7 linked regions of the Homo sapiens genome follow. The protein of the gene in region 7 purifies or fractionates together with the protein of the main gene of each other region. This does not show direct contact. Each region holds a gene or a part of one and is shown on either strand. Other genes may lie near its edges. The genes, in order: PCNX3, SRPRB, ASPH, DERL1, UBAC2, TAP2 and RNF185.

What was found.
Region 1: the proteins of RNF185 (region 7) and PCNX3 purify together in Homo sapiens (affinity purification with mass spectrometry; 2 studies listed by BioGRID and IntAct, with this or other methods). This does not show direct contact.
Region 2: the proteins of RNF185 (region 7) and SRPRB purify together in Homo sapiens (affinity purification with mass spectrometry; 3 studies listed by BioGRID and IntAct, with this or other methods). This does not show direct contact.
Region 3: the proteins of RNF185 (region 7) and ASPH purify together in Homo sapiens (affinity purification with mass spectrometry; 2 studies listed by BioGRID and IntAct, with this or other methods). This does not show direct contact.
Region 4: the proteins of RNF185 (region 7) and DERL1 purify together in Homo sapiens (affinity purification with western blotting; 2 studies listed by BioGRID, with this or other methods). This does not show direct contact.
Region 5: the proteins of RNF185 (region 7) and UBAC2 purify together in Homo sapiens (affinity purification with mass spectrometry; 2 studies listed by BioGRID and IntAct, with this or other methods). This does not show direct contact.
Region 6: the proteins of RNF185 (region 7) and TAP2 purify together in Homo sapiens (affinity purification with western blotting; 2 studies listed by BioGRID and IntAct, with this or other methods). This does not show direct contact.

Annotation. Positions count from the first base shown.
Region 1 is NC_000011.10:65,625,480-65,629,513, reverse strand, and holds part of PCNX3 (pecanex-like protein 3), read right to left. Parts: coding exon 4,004-4,034; intron 3,888-4,003; coding exon of another isoform or gene 3,863-3,887; coding exon 3,770-3,862; intron 3,611-3,769; coding exon 3,460-3,610; intron 2,840-3,459; coding exon of another isoform or gene 2,814-2,839; exon of another isoform or gene 2,617-2,813; intron 2,611-2,616; coding exon 2,466-2,610; intron 2,110-2,465; coding exon 1,932-2,109; intron 920-1,931; coding exon 811-919; intron 696-810; coding exon 566-695; intron 158-565; coding exon 99-157; intron 1-98.
Region 2 is NC_000003.12:133,808,344-133,812,377, reverse strand, and holds part of SRPRB (signal recognition particle receptor subunit beta), read right to left. Parts: intron 1,262-4,034; coding exon 1,179-1,261; intron 1-1,178. UniProt on the Homo sapiens protein: Component of the signal recognition particle (SRP) complex receptor (SR). Ensures, in conjunction with the SRP complex, the correct targeting of the nascent secretory proteins to the endoplasmic reticulum membrane system.
Region 3 is NC_000008.11:61,641,502-61,645,535, forward strand, and holds part of ASPH (aspartyl/asparaginyl beta-hydroxylase), read right to left. Parts: intron 3,132-4,034; coding exon 3,099-3,131; intron 2,501-3,098; coding exon 2,444-2,500; intron 1,933-2,443; coding exon 1,885-1,932; intron 1,420-1,884; coding exon 1,387-1,419; intron 1-1,386.
Region 4 is NC_000008.11:123,012,144-123,015,494, forward strand, and holds the end of DERL1 (derlin-1), read right to left. Parts: coding exon 3,304-3,351; 3' UTR 1,027-3,303; downstream 1-1,026. UniProt on the Homo sapiens protein: Functional component of endoplasmic reticulum-associated degradation (ERAD) for misfolded lumenal proteins. Forms homotetramers which encircle a large channel traversing the endoplasmic reticulum (ER) membrane.
Region 5 is NC_000013.11:99,199,258-99,203,757, reverse strand, and holds the start of UBAC2 (ubiquitin-associated domain-containing protein 2 isoform 1 precursor), read right to left. Parts: upstream 2,905-4,500; 5' UTR 2,850-2,904; coding exon 2,819-2,849; exon of another isoform or gene 2,347-2,818; coding exon of another isoform or gene 2,191-2,346; intron 1-2,190. UniProt on the Homo sapiens protein: Restricts trafficking of FAF2 from the endoplasmic reticulum to lipid droplets.
Region 6 is NC_000006.12:32,835,738-32,840,500, forward strand, and holds the start of TAP2 (antigen peptide transporter 2), read right to left. Parts: upstream 3,003-4,763; 5' UTR 2,916-3,002; intron 2,501-2,915; 5' UTR 2,497-2,500; coding exon 2,004-2,496; intron 1,915-2,003; coding exon 1,800-1,914; intron 37-1,799; coding exon 1-36. UniProt on the Homo sapiens protein: ABC transporter associated with antigen processing. In complex with TAP1 mediates unidirectional translocation of peptide antigens from cytosol to endoplasmic reticulum (ER) for loading onto MHC class I (MHCI) molecules.
Region 7 is NC_000022.11:31,187,424-31,191,457, forward strand, and holds part of RNF185 (E3 ubiquitin-protein ligase RNF185), read left to right. Parts: intron 1-4,034. UniProt on the Homo sapiens protein: E3 ubiquitin-protein ligase that regulates selective mitochondrial autophagy by mediating 'Lys-63'-linked polyubiquitination of BNIP1.

The sequences.
Region 1 (4,034 bases), on a different chromosome or scaffold from region 7:
CCCAGAACAGACGGGCAAATGGACAAAGTGACAAGTTAGCGAGGCTCCCTCCCCAGGGAGGCCCTGCCCTAAAGCCCCTTGGATGGCTGGGTACACACCAGGGTTCCTGTCCAGCTGTGTGACCAGGCGGGTGTTGGAATGATCCACACGTTTAGTGCTGTTCAGAGAGAGTGCAACAAGGCGGTTGGCCAAGAAGGTGAAGAGAGGGTGCACCCTGCTCATGCTCTCCCTGTGCCACAAGGTCAACGCCATCCAGGACAGCCCCGTTATGCAGGCAGATGAGGAGACTGAGGCTCAGGTACATGAAGGGACTCACACAGGACACACAGCCAAGAAGCTGGGAGGCTAAGCTCATCCCCAGACCCCACTATCCCCAAGCTGTGAGCCTGAAGCCTTGGCCTGGTGCAGGCTCTCCCTGCATTGGATCTGCCGCCTCATGTGTCCCCACTGTGACCAAGCCCTCCCATACCTGCTGTGGGCCCCTCTGTGGGTGGCCTCCAGCCTGGGCTCCAAACCTCTCCCTTCCTGCCCTGCTGGGCATGCTCCCGCCTCCTGTGAGACTCACTTGTAGTCGCGCTCCCAGAACTTGAGGGGCCGAGCGTAGGACATGATGAAGACGGCACTGCCTAGCAGTGGGTTGAGAGGCGTGGAGAAGAGCCCCGAGAGCAGGGCCTGGACGAACAGCATGGCCGAGTCTGAGCCACAGTCAAGGAGGCGGCGGGCAACAGGACCTCCCAGCCCCCCACCACCCCCCACTGCCCCAGGCCACAGCCCTCCCTGCACACCCCCACCCAAACACAGGCTGGATACGTGGCACGGCAAACGGCTGGGCAAAAGCGTGGAAAGCCGAGCCCCAGGTGATCTGCCAGGGCGCGATGTAGGTCAGCACGAAACGCAGCTTGTACAGCAAGTCCCACAGCTGGCAGGGCCAACAGGGAGAAGAAAAAAGACATGCAGGGTCACTCATGGAAGCCCCCGGATGCCAGGCCCCATTCAGAGGCTTGGGTCATCGCACTGGCTTGGCCCACGGGGGCCAAACTCAAGGTCACTGCCAGCCCTTGTGCTCTGGACATGGCTCAAGGCGCCTGATGCCATTAGCAACCCCTGCCTGAGCTCAAAGGGGGCGGTGGCCATTTAGTTCACACAAGTACCCTGTGAGCTTCTTATTCCTATTGCTGGCCCCTTTTCACAGATGGGAAAGTTGAGGTTCAGTGAAGACAGAGAAGATAAATGACTTCCTCAGGTCACGCCACTAGGTCACTGGTGAGGCTGAAGCTAGACTATAGTACTGAAAATTGAGAACAGCCACAGGCCCTGCCCTCAGAGGGTACGCAGTGTGGATGACCGCCATCCTGGGCCAGGCCAGAAAACAAGAACAGAATGCCCACGTGAGGAAGAAAAAGGCTCAGGCCTGCCTGGGGTTCCAGGTACCACTGCTGGCCTCCAGTAGAGTGTAGGAGCATGGTTCCTTAGTTCAAAGAGCCCCCCAAGCCGTGGCAATGCCACAGCCGGCAGAGCACCTATACACACCCAGGCACTAGGGGCTTCTGAAACTCAGCTCGGACTGCTCTGGATCCAGGGTGGCAAAAGAGCGTGGAACTCAGAGGTCTGCGTCCAGAGGATAAGGCCAGGTCCTGATTACCCTAACCATTTCTGAGGAGGTGGTCGTGGGGTCAGACAGGCCTGGGTTCAAATCCTGGCTGACCACCAATTCTCTGGAAGCCTGAGGCAAGTCCCTCAACCTCCTTCAGCCTGCTTCCTCTCTGTAGAGGGTGGAAGTAACCCCTTCCTTGAGAGGCTGCTGCAAAGGCCCACGGGGCTGATACAGAGCGGTGGCCACAGGCCCTCAGGAAATTCTCTTCCCACCCAGGCAGAAGTTGGCTCTGCTCCCATTGGACAGCCTGGGGTCTGGGCCACAGCCACCAACTCACCTTGCTGCAAAGCAGGGACATGAGGAAGTAGTCAAGCAGAAAGCCCTGGGAGAGGCGCGGGTAGTCAAAGTGGAAGAGCAGGACGGTGAAGGCCAACGTCAGGTACTGCTGTGGGGGGCAGCAGAAGGCTGAGCGCAGCAGCTTCAGCCCAGCCACGGTCATCAGCAGCGCCCGGCAGCTGTGGGCAAGGGGCAGGCATCGGGTGCTTGGTAGGGGACCGGGGCAGTGGGTATAGGTGTCCCATCCCTCGCCTACTCTGGCCGGAGAGCAACCCCTGGCCTCTGCTCTGCTGGGCTGGTCCCTGCTCTTTTGGGCCCGTGACTCTTAGTCTCTGCTCTTCCAAAGGGAGTGGTGGGAACACATTTGCCTTTGAAGAAGCAACCACTTCCTGGGATGGCGTGTCAGGAGCTGGGGTCCTGCTTTAGCTTGCTAAACAACCTTAGACATGATTCATTCCCTCTCTAGGCCTCAGTTTCCCCACGGATCAAAAGGGAAAGCGGATGATGGGATCGTTGAGGGTGGGGTGGTCCTCACTAGAAGCAGTACTTGTCCGGGTGGCTGACGACTGTGTGGGCGTCCACCGTGAGGGCGTTGAGCACCACGGCGGGGTAGATGAGGTACTTCTCTACGCACTGCAGGCCAGCATACAGCTTCTCAAACCACATCACCTGGGCGGCACCTGTGTGGAGAGGCCAGGACTCTGCACCTGGCTTCCACATGCCTGCCTTCCCTGAGGAAGTCCTTCCCTAGGAGGGCAGGCTGTGCGGTCCTGACTCCTCGGAGACCCTGGGGGGAGGGGCTGATCTGTGGCAGCTCAAATGGGAGCAGCGAGCCCCAGCAGGGCAAGGGCTCCACATGGCACTTAGCACATCGAGGCTTGCTTTATGGCAGGTGCTCTGCTCTGCTGTCTGTTAAAACAAGGCCAATGATGAAATCGCAAACACCTACGTACAGCAGGCTGGCTAGGGCCTGAGTGCACAGTGAGCCCGTGAGCTGGGCCCTTCTAAAGGGCAGACCCCTCGGTTCAGGCTGGTTGTAGCCACAGAGGGATGCTAGTCTGGGAAGCAAAATCTTCTGTCGTTTAAGAAAAACTCAAGAAACATGGATCTTCATATCTCAAATCGAGATGCTAAAATAGAGGCTCCAGGATTTTTTAAAAACCATTATGCAGCCCAGTGAAGATGTGCTCCAGGCAGCTCTGGTCCACTGGTGATCAGTGTTTAATTCTGGACAAGAGATCCCTTCAGGGCCCTGGGGTTCTAATTCTTCCGTCTTCTCACAGACAGGAAGGAGGGCAGGACCAGGGCAACACAGGCAAGGGAAGGGCACAGCAGGGCACGAGGAGAAGAGTCGGTGGAGAGCGCAGCCGGGCAACACGGACACAGAGGGCAGGGAGGGAGCAGAAAGGGTAGTGTGGGCAGCGAGTGCCCCCTGCTGGCACTCCTGAGCCGAGAGGACCACAGCTCCCACCAGCCAGGCTGCAGCCCGAGCCACTGCCCAGGCCTGGCCATCAGGGGTGGGCACTCACCGCGCACTTCATACTGGCTGTACTCCAGCGGCTTCAGCACGGGCTGTGACAGGCAGAACCAGGGCAGCTGTTTGCGGAGTTGTGGCAGCAGGTAATGTGTGAAGAAGCCCACGGCCCCAGCCAGTGCGTACAACACGAAACCCAGCACCGACTGCAGGAGGGAGAGGCCAGAGACTCAGCTGATGGGAGCAGGCCAAGGGACCACAGAGGGCCACCTGGCACAGGCCGGGGAGGGGCTGCCCACGGCACTCAGATTGAGCAGGCTCCCGCCAAGACAGCGAGAGGCAGCAGCGGCCCATGCCACACAAACCTTCAGGGCAATAAAGACGGTGCTGGCGCTGATGGCGAAGGTGAGCACGGCGATCACCACACACATCACCAGGTCGGAGTGCAAGACCTCACGCTGCAGGGCCAGGAGAGACATTCAGCTGCCCGGCCAGGAGAGACACTCAGCTGCCCAGCAGCCCAAGCTGGACATGCCCCTCCCAGGAACCCCAGGACCTGTCACCACCTCCCCACAGACCCCCACCCCCCGCCCCCTCACCACCGACTGGCGCATCTTGTCCGGCAAGGGG
Region 2 (4,034 bases), on a different chromosome or scaffold from region 7:
TGGCAAAATTTACCAGCTCTAGATTTGTCTCAATTGTCCAAGGAATTTTCTTATCTGTGACAAATTGTTCATCACCACCATCTTGTGGGCAAAGATGCAATAATGAAATTTCAGTCTAGACATCTTCAATAAAAGGCAAAGAATCTACTACTTCATTCCATCAAAACTAAAATGCTGCCAATTAAAGACATTATTTTAGGGACCGCTAAGAGAAAATACTGCCAATTAAACTATGACACCATCAACTATAAGATATATTCTAAATTCAGAGATATTAAAATGTGTCTTCAAATCAGTGAAATGTGGCATACTGATTTTCCTCTTCAGTTCTTATTAATGTTAGAGACCAAAAAAGAAGCATCTGAAACTGCAGCATAAGACTTTTTAGGGAAGAACTTAAGAGTCAGTAACACCAGAGCACACACTAAAAGAAATATGGAAATATTGTTCTGTACTTCTTGAAACATCAATTTTACGTAATTTGAGAATATATATGGGCCAGGTGCAGTGGCTCACGCCTGTAATTCCAGCACTTTGGGAGGCTGAGGCCAGCGGATCATGAGGTCAGGAGTTCGAGACAAGCCTGGCCAACATGGTGAAACCCCATCTCTACTAAAATTATGAAAAATTAGCAGGGTGTGGTGGTGCGTGCCTGTAATCCCAGCTACTCAGGAGGCTGAGGCAGGAGAATCACTTGAACCCAGGAGGTGGAGGTTGCAGTGAGCCGAGATCACACCACTGCACTCCAGCCAGGACAACAGAGTGAGACTCCATCTCAAAAAAAAAAAACAAAAAAACACTATATATATAAATGATGTTGGCATTTAAAAACTGCTAGGATTCATCCCAGCTTTAAAATTCTTTTTTCAGATTTTAATAGTCATATACATTATTAAATTCACCTTCAGAATAAATGCAAACATTTAGTAACAATGACAAGAAGGGTTAACATTTCCTAAACACTAAAAAACACTTTTTAAGCATTTTAATCCCATAAAATCCTCATCATCCAGGTGAAGGTGGACTTGCAACCCAGAACTGGCTGACCCCAAGGTCACCTCAAGGTCTACCACAGGATACCATGCTGCCTCCCAAACACCACCAGAGCAAATCACATGAGTGGCTTTGATATACAGATACAGACCTAGACAAGCCCACTTCACTTCTTTCCTTCTTACCTGGCTGAAGACTTAAACCGCTCTAAGAACTGAAGCCTCAAACTCTCATGGCCGGGAAGGTCAATCAAGGTCAGACTATTGCCCTGGGGATGGCAGCAATAACATTAACGTTTCAATACAGTTCCACGTTCACAATATAAACCTTTAGTATCATATATTGGCTACCAAACTGGTACCTAATTAACCAAACAAATGTTCACAAAGCATCTTCTACTCATAAAACACTAGTCAACGTTCTGGGGATGTAACAGTGGCCAAAGACACGGTTCCTGATCTGGCAAAATTTATGAGAAAGGTGAACATAATGTAAAATTACACATAAATATAAAATGAGAACACTGATAAATGTTTTGAGGGTACAGGAAAAACCTGTCTGGGGGAGTCAGGGAAGCATGATCTACCTGAGGCTTGGGAGATAAACCAGTGTGAGTATAGCAAAGTAGGAGTACTGTATGAGTATAAGCAAAAATGTGAAAACAGTAACAAGTACTCATAAACTAATAATGTAATATAAGAACTTACAATTTTTCATAGAGCATATTACTCTTACTGGGATCTCCAATCTTTATAACAAAGTACACTTTTATCATTTCCACCCTTAATCTAATTATTTAAATATTTATCTTCCAGACATATAATTTACTTGTTCCAACTCCGTCAGCATTTGTGTCAATTCCTGAGCCCCTACTGAGCAAATCTACGATGCACCCTAATAAGTTCTATTCACCATGCCAGGCTGCCATTCCTGAATATAAGGTCAAGGCCTGGAATGGTGAATAAAGTTTATATTCAGTGTAAACGTGGCTGTGCTCAACAATAAGACTCTTAGATGTGGCCTGGTACATGCAGCAGACCATCATTTCTTACATGTTCTACATTATCCACAGCCAACCATACCCACAGTTCAGAAGCAGGCAATCAGTATCCTGCACAGATTTAACACAATTCCAGCTGGGTTTATTATGACCTTACCTTTCACATAGCCTGTGCATTTCTTTATAGACAAATATGTTTTTTATTAGTCCCTCTCTTTTTTTTTTAAGTACTGTTAAGAGTCTGGAGATCCCAGGTTGGGACTTAACTGCTCCATTTCAAAAGCAGCACTATACCACACACCCTAAGCAATTTGGAAGATACATTACTAGGTATATTACTATCTAAAGAGATTAGATCGAAAACGTAAGGGGGTAGGAGAAAGAGTGAAGAGGGAAGGGAAAAATGCTCTATATATTCAGTAGAAATATTGATAGAATAGAAATATAGTAGAAATATAGAATAACAGAAGCCACATATGTAATTTTAAATATTCCAGTAACCATAATAAAAAAGTAAAAAGAAATTGGTAAAATTAATTTTAAGTTATTTAATCTAATATATCCAAAATATTATCTTTTAAAATGTAATAAAAAAAGAAATTATTAATGATACTTTACGTTCTTTTTTTCCATACTAAGTCTTCAAGATCTGGTGTGTACTTCACACTTACAGCATGCCTCAATTTGGACTAGTCCTAGTTTAGGTGCTCAACAGTCACATGTGGCCAGTGGCTACATATTAGAAGGTACAGATTTAAAGCATATCCTGGAGTATCCTAAGTTAAAAATCTAGTGCAGGTACTAGATGATCTTGCAAACCTGGAATTTCAAAATCTGAATCCTTGGGAGTTTAAAAAGGTCTGGGCCACAAAGAGTGTCATCATTGAAAAAAAAAACAAAGATATCGCTAAGATATTTAAAAACATGTCCCTTTATTTTTCTTTACAATCTTTAATTCTGGAGGCATGAGAAAGGGGAAAGAAGACAAAGAGAAGAAGAAAAGGTCTCAAACCACAATTCTAATTCATCCATCTATCCATCCACATCCTCCAACGAGCCCTCACTCCACTCACTCACCGAAACTTATTACATGGCTGGGTGCAGTGGCTCACGCCTGTAATCCCAGCAATTTGGGAAGCTGAGGTGGGCGGATCACTTGAGGTCAGGAGTTCAAGACCAGCCTGGCCAACATGGTGAAACCCCATCTCTACTAAAAATACAAAAATTAGCCAGGCATGGTGGTGGGCGCCTGTAATCCCAGCTACTCAGGAGGCTGAGGCAGGAGAATCGCTTCAACTCGGGAGGCAGAGGTTGCAGTGAGCCAAGATCATGCCACTGCACTCCAGCCTGGGCAACAGAGTGAGACTCCTGTCTCAAAAACAAACAAACAAACTTATGCATTACAATCGGTTTGGTAGTCACTGTCTACATTCTGAAGTTACAGAGGTATGTAAAATGTCTTTCCCATGATTCCTTATATTTTTTTTTTTTTTTTGAGACTTAGTCTCGCTCTATTGCCCAGGCTGGAGTGCAGTGGCGCAATCTTGGCTCACTGCCACCTCCACCTCCCGGGTTAAAATGATTCTCATGCCTCAGCCTCCCGAGTAGCTGGGTTACAGGCGCCCACCACCACACCCGGCTAATTTTTGTATTTTTAGTAGAGACAGGATTTCATCATGTTGGCCAGGCTGGTCTTGAACTCCTGACCTCAAGTGATCGGCCTACCTTGGTCTCCCAAAGTGCTGGGATTACAGGCGTGAGCCACCAAGCCAGGCCCCATGATTCCTTATATTTGAAATACACTCATATATACTCTGTAAGATATCCATTGCAGCACTGTTTGTAAAAGCAAAGGTTATAATAACAAAACTAAATGTCTATTAACACGGTCCAGATTAAGTAAGAATTTAATTTTATGGTATAGCAACAGAGTGGAGTACTATGCAGCTCATAAACCAACCAGATGGTACTATGTATACAAATGTAGGACAATAAGAAAAGCCCAAGTTGTATCAGCCGTATGAGAAAAATAATGGGCAGA
Region 3 (4,034 bases), on a different chromosome or scaffold from region 7:
TTCCTGTGAACACATCAGGTCCAAATTCTTTAACTTTTCATAAAAATTATCAGTACCTTAAAGACACAACCTAGGATTTTTCCCATGGTGTCATTCATATCCCATTAGAAATAGCCACTATAGATGATGAACTTGGTAGGGTCTCAAATCTTAAATCATCATATAAATATGATTCATATTTATAAACACTCCTAATTTTCTTCAATTGTGATTCACTATCTATCATGACACTGTAAACTCCTTGAAAGGAGGGACCCTATGTTACTCATAATTGAATTCCAGGCCCTAAAACCATCTAGAACATAGAAAGTCCTCCATATCCACCAACTCAATTACGATGTATTTCTTCATCGTTCTTGCTTTACACATAAAGTTATACCCAACTGACTTCTCTCTTTCTACATAATCATCTTTGAGGATAATGGAATAAAAAGGATATATTATTGGTTCTATTACTTCTTAGCCATACATTCTTGGGCAGCTTATTTATAATGTCAGAACCTTATTTCTGTCCTCTGGGAAGCAGGGAAAATAAAATCTACTTCATGGAGTTCAACACAATAGTCTATGCAATGCTTGGACACAAGAGGAGGGAGGTACAGGCCTAAACTGAATCAGATGCTGCTGATGCCACAAATTTGCCAGAACTGTTTTCTCCATACTGCCTTTAAGCCTGGAACACAGTGCTTCTTAACCTTCCCCAAGGTGACAAATCAGTCATCTTTGAGAGTGGGATTAACCTGTAGAAGCAGCTAGAGCAATTTAACTCCGGCTAAAGTAGTTGTTCATGCATATTTTAGTCAAAAGAGACACAACTATAAAGTACTGAGATTGGTTTTCTTGAATGACTGTAACTGCCTCCTAAGGCAACTTGTAAAGAGTTTAAGAAATTATTTAGGCAATGGCAGAAGCCGTGGAATGGGTAAACAGTCTCCCCAAGTGAATTCTTTGAACGCTACCGTTCATCTGGATGTTTTAAGTTGCAAAGTTTATAGTTTAAAGCATAATGTTCCACATCTTGTAGTCAAACTATAGGTATATTTTAAAACAAGAAGGTGGCTTAAGGTTAGAAAGCATTTGCAGGCCGGGCGCAGTGGCTCATGCCTGTAGTCCTAGCACTTTGGGAGGCCAAGGCGGGAGGATCACCTGAGATCGGGAGTTTGAGATAAACCCTAAAATACTAAAAATACAAAATTAGCTAAGCGTGGTGGCACATGCCTGTAATCCCAGCTACTCAGGAGGCTGAGGCAAGAGAATCGCTTGTACCCAGGAGGCGGAGGTTGTAGTGGGCCAAGATTGTGCCACTGCACTGCAGCCTGGGCAACAAGAGCGAAACTCCATCTCAAAAAAAAAAAGAAAAAAAAAAAAAAGAAAGCATTTGCAAACCTTGTTCCTCATAGACTTGGTATGTTACATCATCTGAAAAAAAAAAGAGAATAAAAGCAAAATAAGTATTAACTGAGTCATTCTATACAATTGTTCAGTTAAAACAAAATACTACTTAATCGTAAACACAGAACTCTACTCCTTCAAATATTAATGTCTGCTCAGTCAATAATAAATGCCTCTGCCCAAAAGCAATTAAAAGGCAGGTAAATTATTTTCATTAAAATTTCTCAAATTGGCACAGAGGAATTTGATACACAAAAACAGCATTAAAATTTGACATCCTGTTTTGTTATGGAATGGTTAGTTGATGAGGTGAAATATGAAAGCCTGATATTCTTATAACAGTCTAACTTTGTTATAAAACAAAATCTCATGCATTAGATGTCGAAATTACTTCTTTGATGCCTTTAAAAGAAAAATCACCATGTAAACACAGCATGTGATTGAAAAATCTAAGGTAATATTTTAAATCTAATGAAAATGCTCATCTAATACCTGTATCATGGTGCAATCTTTCATCTTCTACTACTGGTTCACTGGAATCTAAAAAACAAAAACACACCTTTGCCAAACAGGAAAAAACCAAACACATTGCCAGACAGCATTCTAGGAGATTCATAAATTAATTATCTTCACAACTTTGCCAGATAGATGTTTTCATTATCATTTAATAAAATTTAAGCTGAATAACGTTCCACAATTTGATGCCTAAGTCAAAAAGATAGGAAAGAGTAGAAATGGGATTTGTACCCAGAATGACTTTATAGTACATCATACTGCCCCTTCAATTTTCAAATATTCTTTCCAGCACCTTACCTACAAAGACCAAAGTCTCAACAGTGGTTTGAAAAATACGTCTCCTTTTTCTCTCATCCCTCTATGTAGTATTAAACTATATTCAGACATTTCTATAAACATCTGACCAATCAAAAGTGATTATAAATACCATACAGGGATCTCTGTGTTGAATCACAATTGTTAACCCTGGAATAAAACGGCCTTGGCCACTGCCTCAATCAGAAAACACATATCAATAATTTTAACATTTACAAACCTGGATTTTCCTGCTCAGACATCATCTCTTCCATATCCTGATTACAGTCTTGTGAAACTATAAATTATGGAATAATTAGGAAATTACGTCTCAAATAAGGAATACATGTAATATTCGAAACCAGAAAGACACAATTTCTAGTTATGATTGAAATGCAAAATCAAGTCATAATGATATTCAAACATGTTCACTCCTGAAACAAATAGGTATTAAGTGTGTTAAATGCCAAATGCAAAGATGAGTAAGGGGGGCCTGTCATCAACTGGTTTACACTCAAACCGCAAAACAGTAAAGTGCTGACAGATGATGCGCCCACCTCCTGTGGCCATGCCCTTTAAGGGCGCTGGCATGTGACAAAACATGATTTAGACCTTTCGTTGACTCTGTAATTGAAAGGTACAAAACATGCAATTCAATTGTATCTTTTGAACTAGTAATCCTACTGAAAATTTATCCTCAGGAACTAGGCATCAAAACACAAAAAAGTATATTCACAAAGAAATACCATAAATATAAGACGTAATAAAATTATTAATTGCATATCTTGCATATATTAATTTAAATATATCATTAATAATAGATATTATGTATTTTATGATGCCCTTTTAAAGGAAGACTCACTCTAATTAAGAACAGAATTAAATTAAAATCTCACCTGTCTCTTCCACGTGGTAACTATGCTCGGTTTCTGGAAAAAAAAAAATTAGATTGATATTTACTGCTTTTACAAAATGGTATGTATATATCCCGTATATGTACTCTGAATCTATGCTTATCATTAATTTTATTTAAAAAATTAAAAAATGGGACTATCAATTAAAAGTCTGCTTAACACTTTTATATTTCACTAGAAGTACACTGTGGGATGTCTCACACATTCTCCTTCTCAGTCCACTCATCCCCACAAGGCTGACAACCACCACCCCCTGGACTAAAGAGAGAGGACAACTTAGAGTGACACAGGCCAGACCAGGAAAGCCGTTCATTTCTAATCCACTTCACAACCCACTAGAATGTGCTATCTCCTCGACCTGTCCTACCATTTTCTAGAGCGAAAGTACAGCAACTATGGATGGGAACAGAGAAAAACAGCTGAAGAGGCTTTATACCCTTAGGGAGCTGAAGGGTAAATGTGTTGAACACTTAACCCATACACCCCAGATAGCAGAAGAGCTATCTGTCCGTCACCACACTTATGACCTTGCTAATTTTATTTAATGCATATATAAAGAATAAATATTTTTATTTTCTGAAGACTTTTAACAACCAACTTTTAAGTTCAAACTGCATCTATGTCCTAATTAAAGATGAGATCAGAAAGTAAGGTTTCTGCAATTTGTGAACTTCTTAAAAGTGTTTCTTCCTACTCCCAATCTGTGACTCCTAACTTTAAGAATATCAAATTCCTCATGCTTCTGTTTATTTCAGCATCTTAACTGAAATTTGTTGTATAAGCAGCATGTAGATAGAAAAATTCTGAGCAACTGTCAATCTTACTGAGCCATTTAGGCCAAAGACTGGAGAGAAGAAGCAACAGGAAATGTGGAAATCATTTTATCAGTATCCCTACTCAGAAACTGGAAACCTTGTC
Region 4 (3,351 bases), on a different chromosome or scaffold from region 7:
AAAGGCTGGGCACCGTGGCTCAGGCCTGTAATCCCAGCACTTTGAGAGGCCGAGGCAGGTGACTTGCCTGAGCTCAGGAGTTTAAGACCAGCCTGGGCCACATGGTGAAACTCCATCTCGAACAAAAATACAAAAAATTAGCCGAGTGTGGTGGCACACACTTGTGGTCCCAGCTACTCAGGAGGCTGAGGTGGGAGGATCATCTGAACCTGGGAGGCAGAGGTTGCAGCGAGCCGAGATCATGCCACTACACTCCAACCTGGGTGACAGACTGAGATCCTGTCTCAAAAAAACAAAGAAAGAAGAGACAGAGAGGGAGAGAGGGAGAGAAAGAGGGAGGGACAGGGAGGGAAGGTGGGAGGGAGGGTTAAGAAAGAAGTAAACACAGGACATGGTATTCCTGGCCAATTCTGATCACCAGTCACTCTGGAAGGCAAACAAGTGAACTGCCAGTAAACCCATTTGCTCAGCCCAGCCTTCTAAGAAAAAAACAGTATAAAGTCCAGAAAGGAGTAACTTCTTTCAAAGGTTAGTTATTCAGAGTGTTAAGTTACTGCTGAAAGTGTAAGAGGGGCAGGGACCTCAGAAACAGAGTTGGCAATAAACGAAGATGTTGGCAACTGCAACATTGCCTATTATTAGATCCATGTCATTCAAAAGGTAGCTTAGAACACAATGATACTGGCAATGTGTCCTTCTAAATAAGCGGGATCTTTTTCTATTGCTTCAGTATTTCCCCAGTAATAGAAGAGGGACATACATACAACCTGCTTCCTGTCACCTCACCTTGTGATGAGTGAAGTTGGCCTGTCGAAGGCCCAAGATACAGACTGGGATGTTCACCCTCGAGGAAAAAAAAAAAAAAGGGCTCAGGAATGTCATGGCACCTGCTATCTAGTCTGTGTGTGCCTTATGAGGAAACAGGATTAAACTAATTTTATAAAGTTCCAGGGCTCAGATCCATGGGTAGAAGCTATAAAAATGCCATAAAGCATGCTACAATCAGATATGACTCCTCACTCAAAGTTAGCAAGCATCCTCCTTCATTAAAATGAAAACCCAGGAATTCTGCATCCAGGAATTAATCCAGCAAAAAATACTGGGTACTTCCTAAATGCTCTTCAAGAGATAATTGGTTACACAAATTATGTGATATCTAAGAGACAGCAGAGCAGGGACATGGAAACTTAACACAGACAACCTTCAAGTTGCACATTTTAATTTACAATTTTTACCAATAAAAAGGATTAGTTTACAAAAAGGGAAGTCCTTTATACAAAATAAGGATTTTTTTTTTCCATTTGTAAAGAGAATCCACTGTCATGTTTTGCCTTGTCAAGTCAAAACTCAAATAGCTTGTTTTGGTAAAATTATTCCAGAAACATAATCCAGACAAAATCAATAACGTCATCAGCTTCCTAACCATGTTTAAGAGGAATAACTTCATGAACATTTTGCCCTGAACTGAAGAGTTCTAAATACTTGTAAACCTTTAGGAAAAAATGACTGCTCGCAGGCAGCTGACTGGTAAGAGGGTACACCAGAGACTCCGGGTCACTCACTGTCAGAATATTCTTATACATACAATGAGTCTCCACGCCTGTACAATGAGTGTACGTGCAACATAATTGGAGTAATGGCCTCTAAAATTTTACAAGTAAACTTTATTGTGGCCACAGATGAACAACAAAACATGACAGTTAAGGTTCAGACTCTCCCCACCTATTTTATCATATAAATTAAATATGGAGAGGTACACACAAACTCTATTCAAAATGAGAAGTTGTTTGCCAACTCTCATTTCCTAGGATAACACACATCACACTGTTTAAGAGTGGGGGAAAGAATAGTCATACTGTTAGAGCACAATGTTTCCTGAAAAGAAACTGATCAAAACGTTTGAAGCCTTTTTAGTTGCCTCAAAGTGTGACAGCCACTCAATACTGCTCCTAACAGTCTGCTTTCAGATAACGTCATAAAATAAAATAACTGTGTGAAAAGCCATGGCCTTCAAAAAACTTTATTTGGTTATGAGCCAAGCTCTGATAGGAAAAGCCCACCTACGAAAAAAAGGTGTGGGTATTTAAGCTGGTCTGATTCACAGAGCTTGTACATTCATGACTCAAAATAACACACCCTCAAACCCAAATGATTCTAAAGCCATTTCAACCTTAAATCATGTTATTCCCTTAGATGTGCTTACATTAGCTTTAAAAAATGATCTACGTGCAGAGAGGAGCTGCGCCTTCCTCACAATTAATTGAAACATGACCAAAAAACGGGGGATAGGCAAAAAAGTGACATTTAAATAGCGTATGAGGGTCTCTCCTCCTTTACTCAATGAACACATATCCAGAATGAGATTGAAATGGAATCAATGCCCAGGAGCCTCTCAAAGAGAGCATCTCCCTGTAGCCAACATGATCTGGATCCTCCTAACACAAAGCAACCCAACTACTCCAGCTACACAAAGCCAGTAGGCCTACATATGAAACGCAAAGGGGTTGCATCCCCCATGGTTTAAACCTAACCCATGTTAGCTGCAACTCCACTACAGTCTTGATCACTTAGCTCAGGAAACAAACACCCAGCAACAACCCTCGTATCTCATTAATACCAATCTGTGGCCCTCACTGACTCAGTGGTACTTTTTTATAAAAATATCTGAAGAAGTGGCAAACGGTTACAACGGATGTCAGGTCGAAGCAATTCCAAAAGCTGAGAAAACGCTTCATCCGCTGCTTGTCTTCTCCCCCTATTGCTACAGTTCTGCCACCAAAGGGGGAAAATTACGTGAATATGATTGTTGTGACCAAGCCTTGGCAAAAGTCAATAAATAACAGAACCTGTCAAGGGCAGAGCAATTTTATGGGCAACCTCTTCTAGTTGCAAATGTGGGGGTTGGGAAAAGTGGGAGAGAGGCATGTGTGCAAGAAAGAGATAAGGGTCCTTTTGGGAAGGGTTTGGTGACCCAGCCCCAGCTCAATGCCAGCAGACTAGGACCCGCTAAAACCCATTATTCAGACGGAAAGGGGAGAAGAGAAGACACCAAAAAATGTAGTCAGTTTTGCAATTTGCACAGTTGGTATTTGTTCTTCACAGCAGTAAGGACTTGAATGAGAATCGTGAAACTTGTGGAACACTTATATTTTTCTTCGGGATTTAAGAAACTTTGTCTCGTACTGAAAGACTACATTCAGTGTGGGTCAGGTCCAACAGTGTTAGCCAGAACGCAGTTGTTAAGTGCACCCAGCACTGGGAGGAAATGTGGCTTGAGAGGAGCGGCTGCCCGAGGCCGCCCCTTCACTGGTCTCCAAGTCGAAAGCCCTGGCCCCAGTTGTGTCTCCCGCC
Region 5 (4,500 bases), on a different chromosome or scaffold from region 7:
TGCTAAAGTGGTCCTCCACCATAACTTCGGTCTTTGCAGTTACCCTCTCATTGTCTTCATGTCACTTATCACTATGTGAATCATACTGACTTGTTAGCCTGTTTGATGCTGGTCTCCTTGATCCTGCTTATTACTTTATCCTCTGTATATCAACAGTGTGTGGCTGATATGGGTACCCAACAGACACTTATTGAATGGATGAGAGAGAAAGGCAAGTTTAACACTAAAATACTATTATCTACTAACCACAAAACGTGGGAAACATGCAGGTGGTAGAAAATGGCAGGGATTTATCCCTGGAAAGGGACTGTTATTCACCACCCATGGGGGTAGGGCTAGGTACACGTGTCGTCCTTCTTTCAGATTCTTGCTCAGGATCAGAATTTTGATTTGCTAAAGGGTCCCTCAACTTATCTAAAGGAAATCATAGGCAGTGGCTCACGCCTGTAATCCCAGCACTTTTGGAGGCCGAGGCGGGAGGACCACTTGAGGTCAGGAGCTCAAGACCAGCCTGGTCAACATGGCAAAACCCCGTCTCTACTAAAAATACAAAAATAGCCAGGTGTGATGGTGGGCACCTGTAATCCCAGCTACTTGGGAGGCTGAGGCGGGAGAATCGCTTGAACTCGGGAGGCGGAGGTTGCAGTGAGCGGAGATCCACCACTGCACTCCAGCCTGGGCAACAGTGAGACTCCATCTCAATAAATAAATAAATAAATAAATAAATAAATAAAATAAAACAAAGGAAATCACTTCTCCCTCAGTGGGTAGCTTCTCCAGAGAAAAATGTTAAAGCTGACACACAGCCTTTTCTAATGACCAGTCCTGGAAAACTGTGCCTAAGCTCCGTCAGCACTGTAAGCACTGAGACCAGGACCTGTTCGTTGCTGCATTCCCAGCACCTAGCCCAGTTCATCGCCCAGAGGAGATGCCCAAAATGTTTGTAAAATGAGCATGTAAGACACAGCCTTCTGAGGAACGGCCATCCCAACAACTCTTACACTGCAGAAGCACTTAATTTTAGAAACAGGCCAAGACAGCTGCAGAGGGGCTCCAGACCTACGCCTCTCCCTGGGCAACAGTTTGGTTCCTAGAATTCAACACTCACCACCATGTGCCATAGATAACAAAATATTATCTTCCCCACAGTTGCCCTGTATCAAATTTGAATACACTTGGCCAATATAATCTCATGGCTAATACAGTACAGCAACCAATAAGATTTCTCTTGCCCTTTATTTTTTTATATGTACTTTGGCCAGCAAGGATAGATCAAAATGCTAAAGAACAATTGAAATTGAAGAATTCCACCATTAATTTCATAACCAGTAGTTCCTGGCTCACTGTGTGATCCCAGGAAAACCACATTGCCTTCTTGAACTGTCAGCTTCAGCTACAGTCCTAATGCTCTTTATCTAAAGGGTAGTTTGGGGAAGATTACTTAGTAGTTGTAACATACTCCGGGACCAATCCATGAAAGATGCCATAAATCAAATTAATTATGAAACAAAGGAAATCATAAATATTGAAACCACTTCAAAACCTGAGAAGTTGAGAAGTGAGGAAGATTTAAAATTATGCCTGTGGCGCTGATACTAACTCACTGTCAGACTATAAGACGAGACACACATTCTCAGAAGATTCATGACATTCCCAACAGATCTTTTTTTTTTTTTTTTTTTTTTGAGATGGAGTCTCGCTTTGTCGCCCAGGCCAAAGTGCAGTGGCGCAATCTCGGCTCGCTGCAAGCTCCGCCTCCCGGGTTCACGCCATTCTCCTGCCTCAGCCTCCCGAGTAGCTGGGAATACAGGCACCCGCCACCACGCCCAGCTAATTTTTTGTGTTTTTAGTAGAGAGACGGGGTTTCACCGTGTTAGCCAGGATGGTCTCGATCTCCTGACCTCGTGATCCGCCCACCTCGGCCTCCCAAAGTGCTGGGATTACAGGCGTGAGCCACCGCGCCCGGCCAACAGATCTTTAATATTTGGAAATGTCAGATGTTTCTGTCCTCCAGCAGCATTAACTTCACATGGAGTATGAACAGTGACAAGCAATTGCAAAATTAGAGCTGTTCTCCGTTGCTGTACCCGTGCCTAACTGTTAACACGCAGTCTACCTTACCGAAAGTCAATTCCACACACTCAGTGAGAAAAGCCGTTTAACTGGCTGTAAAAATACTCCGCCCCCTACCTGCTGACCACCGCTAACACGCCAGGAAAACAGCAACATCCAGCAGCACAGCTGCGCTCCCTCGCCACGACTTCCTAACTTCCCTCCACTTGAAAGCACTCTCATCAGTGTGTGTTTGTCTAAAAACTCTTCTTGGAGACTGAAGAAGAAACACATCCAAGTGAAACTGAGAGGTCAGCTTCTAAAGCGGAGGCTGAACTTTGCAAGTGGGGGCGGGGGGAGTTAGTTCGGTCCCCCAAGCCTAAAAGAATGGGGCATGGTAAGGGGGACGGCCCCTTCCTTCAGCGCGGCACACGCTCCGCAAAGGGCCTGGGGCCGGCCCACGAGAACACCAGGGCACCTGCCCACTTGCAGCGGCCCCAAGAGACTCCTGGGCAGAGCACCTGGGGATACCAGGTGGGGTCGGGGCGGGCGGCGGGGCTTTGTCCCCATTCGCCCCTCCAGGCCGAAATGGGGGCGGTTTCCGCTGACCCCCAAGACCGGGAACTAGCAGGGTTCGGACGCGGGTCTGGAGGGTCGGCCCCACCACCTCCGGCAAACCCGAGGGTCCCCGCTGCCCCAGCCTCCTCAAAGAGGTGCCTAGGGTGGCGTGTAGGGGGCAGCCAGGATGGCGGAGGCCGGTACTCACAGAGCCCACTGGAGCCGGTGCTGGTGAACATGGTCCCGCCGGGCTCGGAGCCCCAGAGGGCGCCGGGGGAGGGGAAGCTGAAGTGCGAGCCCCAGCGACCGCGCAGGCGCACTCTTGGCGGAGCGACGAATCCGGCGCCGCGAGGCCACTCGCCGCTGACGAACGGCGCACCCGGCGCATGCGCAGTCAGGGGCGTGCGCCCGCTGGGTCAGCGCCCTCCTTCCTGCCGGGGAAGGGAAGTGCGTCGGTAGGGGAGGGCTCACCTCTCCAGGTTGAAACGATGGCGGTCAGAACCGCCTGAGGTAAAAACGGGTGGCACTGGGGAAGCGGAGGCGTAGCTCCCGAGAGCCTCACACTTGTGCTCAGTGCCGCCTCACCCCTGGTGGATCCGCGATGGCCGCGGATTCCCCTGGATTGCCGGCGCTGGGCAGGAGCGCCACTTCTAATCTCTCCCGAGACTGGACGCCCGGCGCCTTCCACGCGCGTTGTGTCTTTCCGGGCGGTCCCTCGAAGCTGGCTACCCCGCGGGCTGTTGACTGCAGTGGGATCTGGTCACTCAGATGCGGATAGAGGGGTACGGGAGCCGGAGAGGTGGAACAGGTCCTTCCGGGTGCGGAGAGCTGGGCCGTCCAGCCGCCTCTTTGTTCCCGCGTGGGTCCCGCGCGGAATCCCCACCACCGGGGCCGACTGTCGTGGTCCCTGGAGTCAGCACCCTGCCCTCCCCGCCGTGGTGGCGGGTGGCTGGGGGGTCCCCGGCCCGGCGAGCCCGGCGGAGCGACCCTGCGCTTCTGCCCTGGCGAGCTTCCGGACTCAGGCCATTTAAATTTTTTTCCCCAGCAGAATGAAGTTACTCTTTGCCAAAGTCACGGTTTTTAAATGTGTGAGCCTGAAAACATATCATGCAGTCGTTTTAAAAAGTTTTTTTTTAAGTTGATCTCGTGAAAGTAGGGAGTAAAAGAGTGGTTATTCTTGTACAGAGGAGAGTTAGTGGGGAGGAAGATGGGGAGAGGTTGGTCAACAGACACAAAGTTATAGTTAGAAGGAATAAGTTTTGGTATTCTCTTGCACGTTTGGATGACTATACTCAACGATAATGTTAACTTCAAAATAGCTAGAAGAGAGGATTTTGAATATTCTCACCACAAAGAAATGACAAGTGTTTTGGTGATGGATGTGCTAATTACCCTGATTAGATGGTTGCACAATGTGTATATGTATGGAACCATCACACTGTACCCCAGAAATACATGCAATTATGTGAGAACGCATGTTATGGGGAAAATTGACCACACTACCCAGCTAAATGAAAGGGATAGGCTATGGAGTACTAAAAAAAAAAAAGCATTTTCAGTGCTCATAAGTGCCAGCCAGTGTGCTAAATCTGTGATTCGTAGATCAACACAGTCCCTACCCTCAAAGAGAGGTTCCAGTGGGCCAAAATGTTAACACTGATTATAGAAGGCAAAAGTATGACTTTTATTTGCTTCTTTAGGCTTTATTCGTAAAGTTCATTTTCACAGTCTTGTTTTGTTCGTTTGTTTTGAGACGGAGTCTCGCTCTCCCCAGCTGGAGTGCAGTGGCGCGATCTCGGCTCACTGATACCTCTGCCTCCCCGGTTCAAGCGATTCTCCTGCCTCAGCCTCCCAAGTAGCTGGGACTACAGGCACCTGACACCACCCTGG
Region 6 (4,763 bases), on a different chromosome or scaffold from region 7:
GTGAAGCAGCCTCCTCGGCAGCCTGCAGACAGTGAGCTGTGGGGTAGGAGAATAAGAGGGGAGGGAGATGCAGAGAAGGAGCAAGCCAGCGGGTGAAACAGAGGAGCAAGCCAGGAGTGCAGAGAAGCGCAAAGTCAGGGGAAAGCATGCCAGGAGGGGCAAAAGAGAAAGAAATGAGAGACAGACACACAGAGAGAGAAGAGGTAAGGAATACACAGAGGAAGAAGAAAGAGGAGACATGGTGAGCTAGATGTGAGAACAAAATCATAACATGTACAAATTTACAAGTATTTATGGAGTGCACTCTGTACTAGACACAATAGAAAACTACAATAGAAGGGAAAAGATATTGTGAAAACAAGTATCCCAGTGCTTGCTTCTGTCCCAGCGTCCCTCAGGCTTGTCCCTCTGTGCGTCTCCTCCGCCTTGGTCTCCTTCCTGCCCCATACCCAAAGCCCTTCTCTGTCATCATAGATACTTCATCATGGGAACTGCAATAATAAATTCCCTGCCCCCACAATTCTCTGGAGCCCCAGAGTCATGTGATTCCCATCTTTCATCCTTCGAGTTGGAAAATCCCTCTTAGACCAACTACATGCTACAGTAACACTTAGAGGAAAAAATATAAAGCATAAAAGCATGTATTTTACAAAATATATGTTTCTAATACAAATTTAGTTACCATATTGAAGAGGCGTTTGGGAGAGTCAGACATGATATAATGAGGGTTTGTACTTTAATGACAGGGATGTGTTCTGAGAAATGTGTCGTTAGATGGTTTCATCGTTGTATGAACATCATAGAGTGTACTTACACAAACCTAGATGTCATAGCCTACTGCACACCTAGGCCATGTAGTTTAGCCTATTGCTCCTAGGCTACAAATCTGTACAACATATAACTGCACCTAACACTGTGGGCGACTGTAACACAGAAGTAAGTATTTGTGTATCTAAACATAGAAAAGGTACAGTAAAAATATGGTATTATAATCTTGTGGGTCCACCATCTTATATGTGGCCCATCATTGACCTAAACTTCGTTATGCAGTGCACGACTGTAGTTTCAGCAGAAAGCAGCCAGGATGGAATGAAGGCACAATGAAATGGTTTTCGAGGGTACTCTAAATTAAGTATGACCATAAAAATAGAGACAATCAGGCCGGCTGGGATTTGGGTAAGGTGAGTGCACACCTCCTTAAACTTTGCACCCCAGGTGCCTCGCTCACCTCATCCCAGTCCCAGCCTTATCAAACAGTTTGTTTGTTTGAGTATGTCTAGAAAGAGAAAGGAAAGCAAGTGAAGGGAAAAGAGTAATGATTCTGGAAAGAAAGGTGATAAGCCTCAGAGTAAGATCTTCAGGGACTGGCAAGATGAGCTGGGAAAGAAGAGTGAAAGGGAGAAGCATACCCATCCTGAGGGAGTGACCCTGGAGAGATACTTTGGAGACAGACTTAGGGGTAGGAGGTAGGAGGCAGAAAGAAATGGAATTTCATGGACCTAGGAATGTTGAGAGACAACTGAGAGACATTCCATCTGAGACTTAAATTCCTTTTGTACTACCTTCACTCATAACTTGTTCCTATAATAAGATCAGATAAACTTTGAAGATATTGGATGAATATGAACGAAGGAAGAAATGAATGGATAGATGAAACAGAATGGTGACTACATTCACCATATTTTAGTTTAAGTATTTTTGTGTTTTGCGCCTGAAAGGGCCTAGAAATGGAGTTAGGGAAGTGAAGACCCCTATAAAGATTTGGGGCTAGCAAATGGACCCAGCTGCCCACCACCTACCTGCCAAAGGAGAAGAGGCACATGAAGAAGATGGCACTGGCAAAGGCATGGGGGTCAAAATCACCTCCCAGGATGTCAATCACACGACCAGAATAGTGAGGGATTAATGTCTCACCTGAAAGAGGCATGAAAAATAACACAAGAATGTGCTGGTGCCCAGGCCCTTTTACCACCTCCAACTCACAACGTCCTCTCCTGACTCACCCAAAACAGCAAGGACAAGGAAGAAGAAGGCGGCAACGAGGAGAGGCAGGTCCGGCCTGGAGAGCTTCAGCAGCCTCCACATCAAGACTTTGTTGTTCACCTGGTCCTGCTCCTTCTCCTGGGCTCCAGGAGGGCTCAGAACAGCCCACAGTGACCAGCTGAGCCCCGCAGCCCCGTACCCCACCAGCAGCCAGCTCCAAGGGGCTGAAGCGACTCTGGCTGGGGGAGCACGTGAGGCCCCCGCGACCAGGGCTCTCAGGGAGACAGTCAGGGGGGTGGCCAGACAGAGCGGGAGCAGCAGTGTCCCCACAAATCCCAGCAGCCCTCTTAGCTTTAGCAGCCCCCACAGCCCTCCCAGCCGCAGGGTCCCCTCCAGCCATAGTCCTGGCAGCCCTTGAGGAAGCAAAGTCCCCAGAGGGCCCTGAAGCAGCCACAGTAAAGCCGCGTCCACCAGCAGCAGGGAGGTCCAGGGTCTCAGGTCAGGGAGCCGCATGGCTCTGTCAACGGATACGAGATGAGAAATCATGGGGGTGGAGTCCCAATCCTTGTCCCTGCCCTCCTACCCGCCCGGCTCCGCCTAACCCGTCCATCGGCTTCTCATTTTATCCTATTCAACCCTGAGAGCTCTCCTGAGTAACCGGTGCTCATCCGTACACCCCTCCTACGACAGACAGCTTTCGGCCTTCTGGGGAGCTGGAAGCATGACCATCAGGAGCCTCGTGCTTAAAAAAAAAAAAAAAAAATCCCCGGACCCCCACCCCCACCCCCGCCTGCCGCGGCGAGCTAAGTGGTCCGGGCTCCGCTCCCTCCTATCGCCGGGTGCAGAGGGACTGGGAAGCAGGAGCGTGGAGTGGGTAGTCACTTGGGCTGCGTCCCTGTTGGCGCTCCAGGTTCCCCTCCGCACCAACTCACCAGCCGCGGCGGGGAGACCGCAGCTCCGGGGACTTCTGCTTCAGCGCTGAGGTCCGCTCCGTCTCTCCCAACCTCGCTACCGGCTCTGGTCCGCCAGCTACGCTCGGCCAGGGCGGGCGTCAGGGCTCGGGCAGCTTTCGCTTTCGCTTCCCCAGCCAAGGCCTTCATTCTGGGCTGGGCCGCCGGGAGGGGGCGCGCGAGACCCGCAGACAGCGGAACTGGAGCCCGAACTCTGGTTCGCACTGTACAGGCCTGCAATGAGTCTCACTCGCCTTTAGTGGCGGTTACTCTGGGATATAAAACTGCAAAAATGTTTCTTTATCATTAAGTAAAATACAGTTGTCTCAAGGGCAACTTTATCTGTTGTCCTTGCTTTGTAATTGGAGAATGCTTTGTAATTGGAGAATCACTGAATTTTCTCAAAGTTACTACTTCAAGCTCTGAGCCTACTATTAAGAAGTGCCTTCTTTCTGGTCCGGCGCGGTGGCTCACGCCTGTAATCACAGCACTTTGGGAGGCCGAGGCGGGCGGATCGCCTGAGGTCAGGGGTTCGAGACCAGCCTGGCCAACATGGTGAAACCCTGTCTCTACTAAAAATACAAAAATTAGCCAGGGCGTGGTGGCGGACGCCTGTAATCCCAGCTACTCGGGAGGCTGAGGCAGGGGAATCGCTTGAACTCAGGAGGCAGAGGTTTCAGTGAGCCGAGATCGGGTCATTGCACTCCAGCCTGGGCGACAAGAGTGAGACTTCGTCTAAAAAAAAAAAAAGTGCCCTCTTCCATGCAAGCTCCAGTTTTAGGCGAGCGAGCCGGGCTCTCCTAAATAGAAGGTTCCAACCAATCTCACCAGGCCAAAGGGGATTTTCACGTACAGACTTTGAATTTAGTAGGCCCTGAGCGTTCATCTTCATCCGTCCTTCTCAGCCGGAGCACCTTGAGCTGGCGCGTGTTCAGGTGCCTCTGAGTCTGTACTCCAAATTATGTTGGGCGCACCTTCAGCCTATGAGGGAAATGCCCCGTACTGAGCTTTGGTTCTTGTTCTATTTTAACACTGTTTAGAACAGTAATTAGGTTTTTAAATATCCTTCCTGACCCAGAGCCTTCCTATGCAACAGAAAGATTCGTTTATTCCAGAAAGGACTCTTCAGATTGAAACCACCTCCCAAACTAAAAACAAACAAACAAACAAATTCCCCAAAGGAAGGGTCGCTTGGATTCCAGATCACCATTTTGAAATGTTACCTGTGTGACTACCAAGGAGTCACTTAAAGTTTAAAATAGTGGTGGTGGGGAGGAGGGATTTTAAGTAGGGGCTCGCTAAAGTTTTACAACTCTATTCATTCTGGCATTTTAAGAATCTCTCTCTAATGAAAAAAGCTCCATGCTCAAGCTCATGCTCCTACTTTCAAGCATTTGTTTCCTTTATTTTCTGGAAAGTGACATGGTCCATAGTTCCAGCATGATTCCGAAAATCTCATGATGTGTGTCTCTTTCTTCTAACCTGGATCTTTTACATTTTCCCCACACTCCTCACTTAGGGGAGTCCTCCTGATCTCTTCTTCCTCTAAAATTATAGTCCTGCCATCTTGCAATTCAGCATGACACATCATGAAATTAGACCCTTAATGTCTGTCTTTATATTCAATATCCAATATCTCCAAAGTGTTATTTGGGATAAATGGTATGGTGTTTATATGATTACCATATTAAAGTGAAGTGGAAGCTTTTTCATCCTACTCTATAAAGTCAAAAACAGTTATCCTAGGTGCCCTACTCCCTGTTCCTCAAACCATTAACAATGGAACACACAGGAGTCCCCAGGTGCCTCTCTATGGAAAGGACCCTAACC
Region 7 (4,034 bases):
CCAATGAGCTGGATGACCTTGGGCAAATCCTGTCTCCACTCTAAGCTCGTTCTCCCCATCTCTAAAGTAATAATACTTACCATTTAGTGAGCACTTACTACCTGCTACTTGCTGTGCTGAGCCTAGAGGCAGTATAGCATAATGGTTATAAGCAAGGACTGTGGAACTGGGCTTCCTCCTTTTGAAGCTTGACTCTGCCACCTTCCTGTTTGACCTTGGACAAGGTACTTACACACATTCTGCCTCATTTTACAGGGTCGTTTGCAAGCATTAAATGACTCAAAATATGTAAAAGGCTTAGAAGAGCACATAGCTTGCAGTAAATACTATGTGTTAGCTATGACTATAATTGTTACTATATTTTATGTTTATATATAGATAGATACACTCATCAAAATGAAGTGTCAAGGTCGGTGTCTGTTCCAGCCTTGACGGTTACAGGAGCCCTTTCTGGCTCTGAGAACCTAGGTGCTAGGTGAAGGTCGGATTTTGGTTTTTTGTGTGTGTGTGTGTGTTTTTTTTTGTCTTGAGATTTTGAGCTGAACCTTGAAAGGTCGATCAAAAAATGCTAGGTAAAGGCGAAGGGTGTGTGTGTCACTCCAAGGCAGGGAGTTTCTAGGGACAGGCACATGCACTGTTGGACTCATCTGAGACCCTTGAGGCTACTGTATACCTCTCACAGCACTCTGGATGAGGGTCTGGGAGTGTTAGGAAAAATAATGGTTACAGTAGTGTTGAGCCAGATTATCAAACCCAGATTCGACTAAAGGGACATAGAGGTAATGAATATTTTTGAGCAGAGAAATCGTGTGAAGAAAAGGCCGTTTAAACAATATTTAAGGGATTTTAAGTTGGCAACAGCGTAAAACATCAATTTATTGGTGAATAAATAGAATGGAGCAGAGATTTTTGTTCTTGAGGCTCTTGCCCTAATTACCATCTTGTGTAAAAGCTGTTGTGATCCACATTCTCCTAGAAATTCAGGATACTTCAGGGTATCGTAAAACCAGGACTTGAAATGATTGACAAAATTAAGAATTCAAAGACAGGATACCCCTGATTTGATTATGTGAATGTATCAAATTATCACATATAACATAAAAAATGTGTACAGCTATTATGGCTGGGCTCAGTGGCTCACACCTGTAATCCAAACACTTTGAGAGGCCATGGTGGGAGGATCACTTGAGCCCAGGAGTGCAAGATGAGTCTGGGCAACATAGTGAGGCCCCACTATGTTTAAAACTAGTCAGGCATGGTGGCGGTACCTGTAGTCCTAGCTACTCGGGAGACTGAGGTGGGAGGAAGGCTTGAGCCCAGGAATTCGAGGCTACAGTGAGCTATGATTGTATCACTGCACTCCAGTCTAGGCGACAGAGAGAGACCCTGTCTCTTAAAAATATATATATATTCTGGGCTGGGCGCGGTGGCTCACGCCTGTAATCCCAGCACTTTGGGAGGCCAAGGTGGGCGGATCACAAGGTCAGGAGATCGAGACCATCCTGGCTAACACGGTGAAACCCGTTTCTACTAAAAAAAAAAAAAAAAAAAAATTAGCCGGGTGTGGTGGAGTGCACCTGTAGTCCCAGCTGCTGGGGAGGCTGAGGCAGGAGAATGGCGTGAACCCGGGAGGCAGAGCTTGCAGCGAGCTGAGATCGCGCCACTGCACTCCAGCCTGGGTGATGGAGCAAGACTCTGTCTCAAAAAAAAAATGTGTGTGTGTGTGTGTGTGTGTGTGTGTTTGTGTTTGTGTATGTATTTATTAAATTTTATAATTATAAATTTTAAGATTATAAATTATGTATTTTATGTATATATTAACTATACATATATTTAAATGTACAGCTGTTGTATATCTTTTTTTTTTTTTTTTTTTTTTTTTTTGTGGAGACAGCCTTGCTCTCTTGCCCAGGCTGGAGTACAGTGGTGCAGTCTTGGCTCACTTGCAACCTCTGCCTCCTGGGCTCAAGTGGTTCTCCTGTCTCAGCCTCCCAAGTAGCTGGGACTGCAGGAATGCACCACCACGCCCGGCTAATTTTCTTTTTGTATTTTTAGTAGAGATGGGGCTTCGCCATGCTGGCCAAGCTGGTTTCAAACTCCTCACCTCAAGTGATCTGCCCACCCCGACCTCCCAAAGTGCTAGGATTACAGGCGTGAGCCACCATGCCTGGCCCTGTGTCAAATTTTTTTTTTTTTTTTTAGAGACGAAGTCTTGCTTTGTCACCAGGCTGGAGTGCAGTGGCACAATCTCGGCTCACTGCAATCTCTGCCTCCCAAGTTCAAGCAATTCTCCTGCCTCAGCCTCCCGGGTAGCTGGGATTACAGGTGCACCCAGCTAATTTTTGTATTTTTAGTAGAGAGAGGTTTTCACCATGTTGGCCAGGATGGTCTCGATCTTCTGACCTCGTTATCTGCCCGCCTCGGCCTCCCATAGTGCTGGGATTACTGGTGTGAGCCACCATGCCTGCTATCAATTTTTTTTTTAAAGGCAGAATGCCATTGGAAAGAACACAGACTCTAAAATGAAACAGATGCTTCCAGTCTGGATGGTGCATCCCTGAGCAAATCTGCTAGCTTCCCTGTACTTTGGTTTCCTCATCTGTAAGATGGAGATGATGGTACTGCCTCATAGGTTAATGTGACCGTCCAGTGACATTAAGAAATGAAAAGGTATTCAGCCACAGCGTGGCACACAGTACAGTCATGCAGTACATAATGACATTTTGGTCAACAATGGATTACATATCCAACAGCGGTTCCATAAGATGATGATGGACCTGAAAAGTTCCTATAATCTAGTGATTTTAAAATGTTATAGAGCAGTGCGTTACCTTTTCTGTGTTAGGTATGTTGGATTTTTTGTTTGTTTGTTTGTTGTTTTTTTGAGGAGTCTCACTCTGTTGCCCAGGCTGGAGTGCAGTGGCGTGATCTTGGCTCACTGCAACCTCTGCCTCCCAGGTTCAAACGATTCTCCTGCTTCAGCCTCCCGAGAAGCTGGGATTACACATACGTGCCACCACACCTGACTAATTTTTGTATTTTTAGTAGAGACGGGGTTTTACCATGTTGGCCAGGCTGGTCTTGAACTCCTGATCTCAGGTGATCCAACCGCCTCAGCCTTCCAAAGTGCTGGGATTACAGGCGTGAGCCACCACGCCCAGCCTGGTTTTTGGTTTTTTTTGAGATGGAGTCTCACTGCGTCACCCATGCTGGAGTGCAGTAGCACTCCAGATTGAGTAGCACGATCTCAGCTCACTGCAACCTCCACCTCCCAGGTTCAAGTGATTCTCGTGCTTCAGCCTCCTATGTAGCTGGGATTACAGGCATGTGCCACCACACATGGCTAGTTTTTGTATTTTTAATAGAGATGGGGTTTCACCATGTTGGCCAGGCTGGTCTCGAACTCCTGACCTCAAATAATCTGCCCACCTCAGCTCCCAAAGTGCTGGGATTACAGGCATGAGCCACCACACCTTGGCTCTATGTTAGGTATGTTTAAATACACAAATATTTACCACTCTGTTACAGTTACCTATGATACTCACATGCTATTCAGGTTTGTAGCTTAGGAGCAATAGGCTATACTATGTAGCCTAGGTGTGTAGTAAGCTATTTCAGCTAGGTTTGTGTAAGTACACTCTGTGATGCTCACAATGATGAAATTGCCTAATGACACATTTCTCAGAATTATCCCTGTCGTTCAGTGATACATGACTATCGTTGCTTAATAAATGGGAGGAATGGTCGTTGTTATAAAGCCTGACTTTCCCCTGAGGGTCATTCATTCACCTCCACTTCTCCCCTAGAGTCTTTAAGGGAACTTGCCAGTGGAGATCTGCCATGATTTGGGGTTATTCTCCACTCAGTTTAGAATGACATTGCAAGATTAATGTTGGAGTCAGATGTTATGGCCAGGAAGATTGTGTATTTGGTTTGTGAAGCTAAACTGTGGTTCAGGAATTGGAAAAGGAACTATCCTTTGAGTTCAAAGTGTACTCAGCTAAAGATACTTGGTATGTGAGGTACAGAAGCCA